Homo sapiens: one gene and its partner. The protein of the gene in region 2 purifies or fractionates together with the protein of the main gene of each other region. This does not show direct contact. Each region holds a gene or a part of one and is shown on either strand. Other genes may lie near its edges.

Region 1 (3,753 bases), on a different chromosome or scaffold from region 2:
CGTGATTGGTTATGACATGACACTGGCTATAAATACAATTTACAAAAGCTATACAGTATTCACTTTAATATACATTTGTTAAATGAATTACCAAAATGCCAAGATTAGTCTAAGAAGTAAGGAACAAAAAAGGTCCTACCTTGTCAATAATGGACTGCATATGAGATTTGTGAGACTGGTCTCCATAAAGCAAAGAGGACCACTGGTCCGGTGCAATTCGTAAGCCTGCTTCCATAGCAATCTGCACTATCTGGGAGTCATGTTCTCGCCGCAGAGCTTCATAGGTTCTAAATTCTTCTTTCAGCTGCATCAAAGAAGAGTCTTCATCACGTTTGGTGACCTAATAAGACACAAATAATCTCATAATGAAGTCAAAAAAATGAGTTTATGCTTTATATGAACATATAATTTTTAATGTAACAAATTTAGCATCAACAGCAAGATTAAATGAATATACCATTTGCCTGCAAAATATTTTCTCCTTAACTTGTTGAGGTAGGTATATTGCTATCATCCCATTCTGAGTCAAGTTGGATTTAGGCCAACATTTTCTGGATAGGTCTTTCAGAAAGAATAAATACAGGCTGAGAATCTCTTACCCAAAATGCTTGGGCCAGAAGTGTTATCAGATTTCAGATTTTTTCAAATTTTAGAATATCTGCATTAAACCACTTGAGCATCCTTACTCTGAAAATCTGAAATGCCCCAATGAGCATGTGAGCATCATGTTGGTGTTCAAAAAGTTTTGGATTTTGGATTTTTGTATAGTCAATCTGTATGTGCTGGAATGAAATCCAAAGATTTGACATACTTTAACATATACATTCAGTTTAAGGTGTATGTGTGTGTATATGTATTTTTGAAAAGAAAAAAATACTAATACAATTCTATATTCTGAAAAACAATATGTTTCTTCTCCATAAATGTGGATTATGACTCTTGGGATTGCCTGACAATGAGCTAGGTGGGACTGATGACTGTAGAGCTTCAGATGCTGGTGTAATTCTAAAAATGATTTAATTTGTACTTGGCTTAATTCTTCATGGAGTTTTGTGGGATGGGCTACTACCAGAAAGTGTAAAGTGTGAGATGCTAGACTAGAATAATCATAATGATTATGATTAGAAGGCTGGAGGCAGGAGAATTGCTTGACCCAGAAGGCAGAGGATGCAGTGAGCCAAGACTACACCACTGCACTCCAGCCTGGGCGACAGAGCAAGACTGCATCTCAAAAAAAAAAGTCAGAAAAATAATACTGGATGTACAATAAATGATACATAGTGAGTAGCAATGTTTGAGGCGGTGCTTATTCAATTTGGGATAAGAGACTATGTCCAGCATTACCATATAAACTGAAATGGCAAATGGAACTTCATTATTGTATATGTGGAATTACACTAGGAGAAAATCTCTGAATAAAATTTATTTGGCTGGGCGCGGTGGCTCACGCTTGTAATCCCAGCACTTTGGGAGGCTGAGGCGGGCAGATCACCTGAGGTCAGGAGTTCGAGACCAGCCTGGCCAACATGGCGAAACCCCGTCTCTACCAAAAATACAAAAAGTAGCCAGGTGCAGTGGCCCTGCCTATAATCCCAGCTACTCGGGAGGCTGAGACAGGAGAATCGCTTGAACGCAGGAGGTGGAGGTTGCAGTGAGCCGAGATCATGCACTGCACTCCAGCCTGGGCGACAGCAAGACTTTGTCTCAAAAAAATAAAAATAAATAAATAAAATTTATTTGTGCTTCAATAACTCTCTCTTCAGACCAATTCTGCACAGTCTTGGTAAGAAATTGATATAGTTTCTTAGTCTCTTCAAATACAAAAATCTATAAACCTTGACTTGATCTATGTTGTTCAATATTGAACATACAAAAATTCAATATAATAGTATTTAACTATAATAAGACCCCATCTACATTCTTTAAAAGAATAAAGAAAAATTGCTGAGATTTTCTGAAAAGATACAGGCAACTTTATTAAACTCAAAGTTTTACTACTTAACTTTGGGGAAAGAACAATATTTCCTTTCAAGCTGAGCTTTAATGTAGGTTCATACCTTGAAACAGGAGGCTCTATAAAGGAGCTGAACAACATGCCCAATGCTAGTTTTAGAGGCTTGAGGAAACCGTGGCTCCAATCTTTGCACCACAAACAGAACCAATACTTTTCTTGACAAAGCAGAACCATCTTCTAAGGCCAGCAGAACCAACTTTAAAGCTTCCTCCTGCATTGCTAGGGAAAGTTGGGCAAAACCAAAATTTATCAAGTACATAGATAAGATAAATCCATTTATTAGAAGGGGAATATTTAATCATTTCTGCAGCTATTCAATTAACTGGCAATACAGTTAAGATTAACCAGCAACACACTTTTACACCATTTTTGTGAGCAATTTTGTATTACATTCTATATATTTTATAAAGAAAACAGATAAAGTGATTAATAAATTTAAGAAAAACTTCTATCAAAATGAATGAACTTCCTGCTACAGGTGTGAAAAAAAGGAAAAATCAAAAAATTAAAAAAAGAAACAACTTTTGGCATTAAGAGAAAAGTTTTAAGTTCACTAAGTTCACCTAGTAAGTCCACTAAGTTACATGGAATTGCCCAAGCCATGAACATCAAACAAGATATTAGTTGGTAACAATAAAATACTGCAAAGAACTAGGCTTTGTACATCACTTATAATTCCTACATCATACTTTTAGAATTACCAGCAGAATAAATACCTAAAGTTAATTATGTACCTGGTCCAAGGAACTGGCATCCCCTAGCCCTTACTGCTGCCCAAAGATTGGAAGAGAGTTGCTGAGGATTCTGGTGCTGGAGAATGAGCTCTGTAACTGTTCGTTCACCTAAAGATCGAGCTGCCCTCATGGCACGAATCCTGCCTTCTTCTTCTACTAGTTGACAGTGGACTAGAGTCACAAGCTTCCTCTGCATTGGGCGACTCAGAACACTCTGAGTAGTGCTGTTCAGACCCACTCCTTTAAAAGAGTAAAGAAGTTATTCCTAGGTTCACAATGCAATTTTACAGTCCAGGAGCAATTCTTCTGTTGGGTTAACTTGTGGGTATGTGACTAGTTCTGGGACTACTAGAGTATTTAAAATAAGCAACAAATAAAACCACACATGTAAAGCTTACTTAAGTATACATTTTTAAAGTATACAAATGTATACATGAGTTATCTCATGTGCACTTAGCATTCATTATGACATTAAATATACCATTACTCATTTTAATCATAGAGGAAGAAAGAAAAAAGGACTAGACAACATTGATAATTAGTTTATAATGTAAATCTTGAAGTCCTAAGAGTTCTGGTATATTATTTGACAGTGGTTAACCTTATTTTCCTAATTAAATAGCAAGCCCTTTCTGTGCAGTAATGGCAACTTCCGTATTCATTATACCGCCTATAGCATAGCATATAAAACTGGATAGAAGGCAAACCATTCAGAATTGTCAAATGATGGAAAGCACTGCTGAAGTAAGTAGTTATATTTGCTATTATCATCATTCGAATAATGTTTCCATCATCACATAAACTAAAAATTCACTATTTTATTTGATGTGGTTTGTGTCATGATATTTAGCACAAAATGAGTTTAGTTTACAATAGATAAATTTCATTAACATTTGCTTAATAGCTCACAATTTTTATGGTAACAAGTCTCTTTAGTAGACATTTACTTAGTATGGATAATTGCATCAAATTTACCTCTAGTTAGGTTTTTTGGGAATTCCTCAG
Region 2 (3,753 bases):
AGTCTTAGCTGTGTTTATTGGGGTAGAGCCCTTGGGTGCAGAAACATTTAGGGATTCGGGAGAAAAAAGGGATGATGTTTGAAGGAGGCAGGAGGGAAGTGGACGGTGTCAGGAGGTTCAGCTCCTCCCCTGGAATGGGGAACCCTGAAGATTTGAAATGGATGTGGGAGCTCCAGACAGATGGCTTCCATGTTCCAAGTAAAGTACAACTTGAAGTACGACGTGATGGTGTTTGACATTTAACAGATGTCATCTGTTCTCTGCAGAGTCACTCAGCAGCCTCCCCTGTTGCAGACACCTCCTTAGGTTTGGAACACACTGTCTATACAGGGCCTAAGTGCAGGATTTTGGTGTGTTCCTTATTTCATTTATTTTTGTTTAACTTGTGGCAGATAAATACAGGTTATCAAAAGAATGGGACAATGAGTAAGCACACACCAAACTAAACAAAACAAAACAAATAGAAACATCACAAGTCTTGAATTTTTTTTTTTTTTTTTTTTTTTTTTTTTTTTTTTTTGGTCAAAGAAAGAACTCATTGGTTGATTTAAGTCGGTGGTAAATCAGAAAGTTGAAAATAAATCACCCTCCTTCTCCAGGGTTCTTCCGGATAGTTCAACTCTAAATTCAGCTGAGAGTATTTCTGATGCTCAAAGAAAAGTGTCTTAAACTCTGATGTTTTAATGTAGTTAAAAAAAACACAAAAAATCTTTGCTGAGGCCCAAGCTGAGGTCAAAAACTACCTCTAGCCATCTGGTGCTTTATTTTTATTGATTAGAAGTCTCTGATAAGACTGATTTGAATGTGATTTAGGAATATCACATTCTAAATGGTCAGTTTGCCTATTCCATTATAGAAATGACACTACGGGAAAATTCATCATCACAGACCACAGCAGAAGTGTTCTTTAGTTAAAGCTCTACCTAGTCATCCAGAAAGCCAGTAAGTAAACCAAATAAAAATAGTTCACTGGGCTCAGAGTGGCAAGTTTTGCATGCAAAGATCGTGAAAATTGTAACCCTAACAATAAATCCAATACTGTTCTCGACTCTCTTGTGTGTCCAGTGCTGCTGCAGTCCTTGGAAGGCTTTTAAACTGTTCAGAGCTTGCTGGTTATCTTCAGCCAAGCCAGAGAGTGGGAGTGCAGTGCATTTTAGTGTAACCATGCGGAACTGGTCGCTCCTTGATTTTGTGCCGTATGTTTCCATTTGTGTAGGCTTTTTCCCCCCTCAGTATTTTGTTGCTTATCCTTTAGAGCGAAATTGGTTTTTCCTCGGCCAATAATCTGTTTCTTTAAAAAAAGAAAAATTCGTTACCTATTGCCTTTTTTTCTGGTCTTCCTGAGCAAGCCAGAAGTCACAAGGTCGTTTACTAAACGGAAACTAAGAAAAAGAAAAGCCACATCAGCCGGCACAAGCCTCTCTAACTTGTGTGCCCTGAGGCTCATCAGATGCGAAGTCCTGGCGACAAGATAGGGTCGCCCGCAGTGGCTTCCTAAAGCGCAGATCCAGGCCGGCTCCCAGCGTGGAATCCGACCCATGTACTTCGCCTCTCCACGTGGCATCAGATGCTCTGCCGGCTGTCACCGTGAACTCCAGCCCTCGCGGAGCCGACACTGACCTGGCTACTTCAGAGTTCGGAGGGAAATAGCGTCTCCGTACCCTCGCCCCACCTGGGCTGCTCCTCGGACCGCCGCTCGTCCCAGACTCCAGGAGGCGCCACCAGGCCTCGCTGACCCCGCTCCATATCTCCGGGAGCCCTCAGCTGGTCGGCCGCGGCGACCGGAAGCTCCGGACTGAGGTACTGGTTCCGCCCGCCGCTCTTCCAGCCGAGACTCGGCAGCGGCGGTCGGAGCGGCTGCCACGCCGCACCTGCCCGCGAGGGGGCGCGCCAGGCCCAGGCCGCAGCCGACTGCCGCGCTCTCTGTCCCCGCCCTCCGCCATCCCCGGACTGCGCTCACCTGTCTGGGCCGCTGGCCTGGGAGGCGGGGGCCGGCGGGAGCCAAGCCGAGGAAAGGGCGGAGCGGCTCTCCGGGCGCGTCATCGGAGCACCATGGCGGAGCTAGGAGCTGGCGGCGACGGCCACAGGGGCGGCGACGGCGCAGTGCGAAGCGAAACAGGTGACCGCACAGCGGGGATAGTGGGGGTCCCGTCGGGCAGGGGACGGCGAGCGGGGCCGGCGGGCTGGCACCGAAATCACCCGGCGCCGGCAGCCCCCTCCCCGCCCGCGCGGCCGCGGCCCGGAACAACCGGCCCTGCGCGCCGCGCACCCTGCTCCGAGAGCGCCTTCCCCCGCCCTTCGCCGCCGCGGCTCGGCCAGCCCGGCTCGGCCCCGGCCGGGGTTGCGGCCGCCCTCGGGCGCTCCACCGCGACTTTCCCGCAACAGGTGGAGGCGAGCCGGGGGAGGAAACGGAGAGACCCCGGCCGCTGCCCTCCCCGCCGCGGCCTCGGGTCTAATTCAGTTGAATGGGAAATCGTATCCCCCAGACCAAACCAGTGGCCAGAGAGTCGTCGGCCAGGTGCGACTGGCAGGACGAGCAGTTTCTGGGCACCTCCTCCCGCCTTCCCTGGTCGCCCCGGGTGCCGGGGGCTCCTCAGCGGGGTCGGTGTGGGGCAGGACCGCGGGGTGAGCGGCCCGCCCCCCAATCTGGTGCCCGCAGTGGCGACGACCGTCGTCCGAGGGGACCGAGCTCGGGAGGGCCGGGGCCCAGTGCAGCACGGTGGGGGTTTGCGAGTGCGGGCTTGACGGGATCAGACTTTCGTTGACTTGTCGGAGTTCTCAGAGTTTTTTGTTTTTAGTCTGTGCAGGAGCCCAAAGGAGGATTGTTGGCTCTGCAGCCCGGGATTTGGTGGTCAGGCCTCTGTGTTGAGGATACCCCTCCCCCACAACCTCCAGGGGCACACTTAGGGACAGGGGATCACGTCCCCAAGACCAGCAGCAAGGCTTCCCAAGACCAGCAGCAAGGCTTCCCAACCCCGCCCATCTCTCCATAGTATGAAGCCGATTTTTCTCCCTCGTGATTTTTTTTTCTCCAGAGGCTATCTTGCAAATCCGTCCCTCTCCACTGGTTCCCTCTTCTATTCTTGGCCAGTAAGCTGTTTCTATATCTTCCTACACTTGGGGATGGGGGCAGTGAGGCAGTTTCTTACTTTAAAAAGAAATTCAATTCTTAGACTCTCCAATTGCAAGCTGTTTTCCACTTCCATACGGTCACAATCGGAAGCATTTGTTTCCTAAATGTAAGAATCACTGTCTCCCCACCATCAAGTATGCTTATTTTAACGTGAAAGGTCCAGAGAGCTCTGAAACAGTATTTGCAAATTATGTATCTGCTATTGCTAGGAAGAGGTTGGGTACGTAAAGTCTAATGATTTAATCCCTTCAGCCAAGATACCTGAGGTTAAGACTGACAAAGTATCTTGAACTTGTTTAAGTCATGCTCCTTCCTGTAGGGAGTTTGTCTTAATGTGTTCGCAAGATTGGTAGATCATTATTTTGTTTTGGGGTGGAGAAGAGATGCCTTTGTAATTGCTTTCGGGAATTTGATGAGCTAGACGCTGGGACGGGGCTCCCCCAAGTGAGGGCCCCGGGAGAGGAGCATCCTCATTTGTAAATATACGGCATGATTTTCGTTCCTAACCCTGACCCAGTAACTGCATGTGAAACAACATTGTTCTAGCGAGCTAAGTGTTAGTTTGTGCTCAAAAATAAACTTTCTAGAATCTGCACGTGAACAACTTGTTCAGACATAAG

What was found. Proteins that work in one complex are often made in the same cells at the same time.
Region 1: the proteins of MAP7 (region 2) and RC3H1 purify together in Homo sapiens (affinity purification with western blotting; 2 studies listed by BioGRID, with this or other methods). This does not show direct contact.

The regions. Positions count from the first base shown.
Region 1 is NC_000001.11:173,980,670-173,984,422, forward strand, and holds part of RC3H1 (roquin-1), read right to left. Parts: intron 2,989-3,753; coding exon 2,749-2,988; intron 2,234-2,748; coding exon 2,058-2,233; intron 341-2,057; coding exon 140-340; intron 1-139. UniProt on the Homo sapiens protein: Post-transcriptional repressor of mRNAs containing a conserved stem loop motif, called constitutive decay element (CDE), which is often located in the 3'-UTR, as in HMGXB3, ICOS, IER3, NFKBID, NFKBIZ, PPP1R10, TNF, TNFRSF4 and in many more mRNAs.
Region 2 is NC_000006.12:136,548,708-136,552,460, reverse strand, and holds the start of MAP7 (ensconsin), read left to right. Parts: upstream 1-2,038; 5' UTR 2,039-2,052; coding exon 2,053-2,119; intron 2,120-3,753. UniProt on the Homo sapiens protein: Microtubule-stabilizing protein that may play an important role during reorganization of microtubules during polarization and differentiation of epithelial cells. Associates with microtubules in a dynamic manner.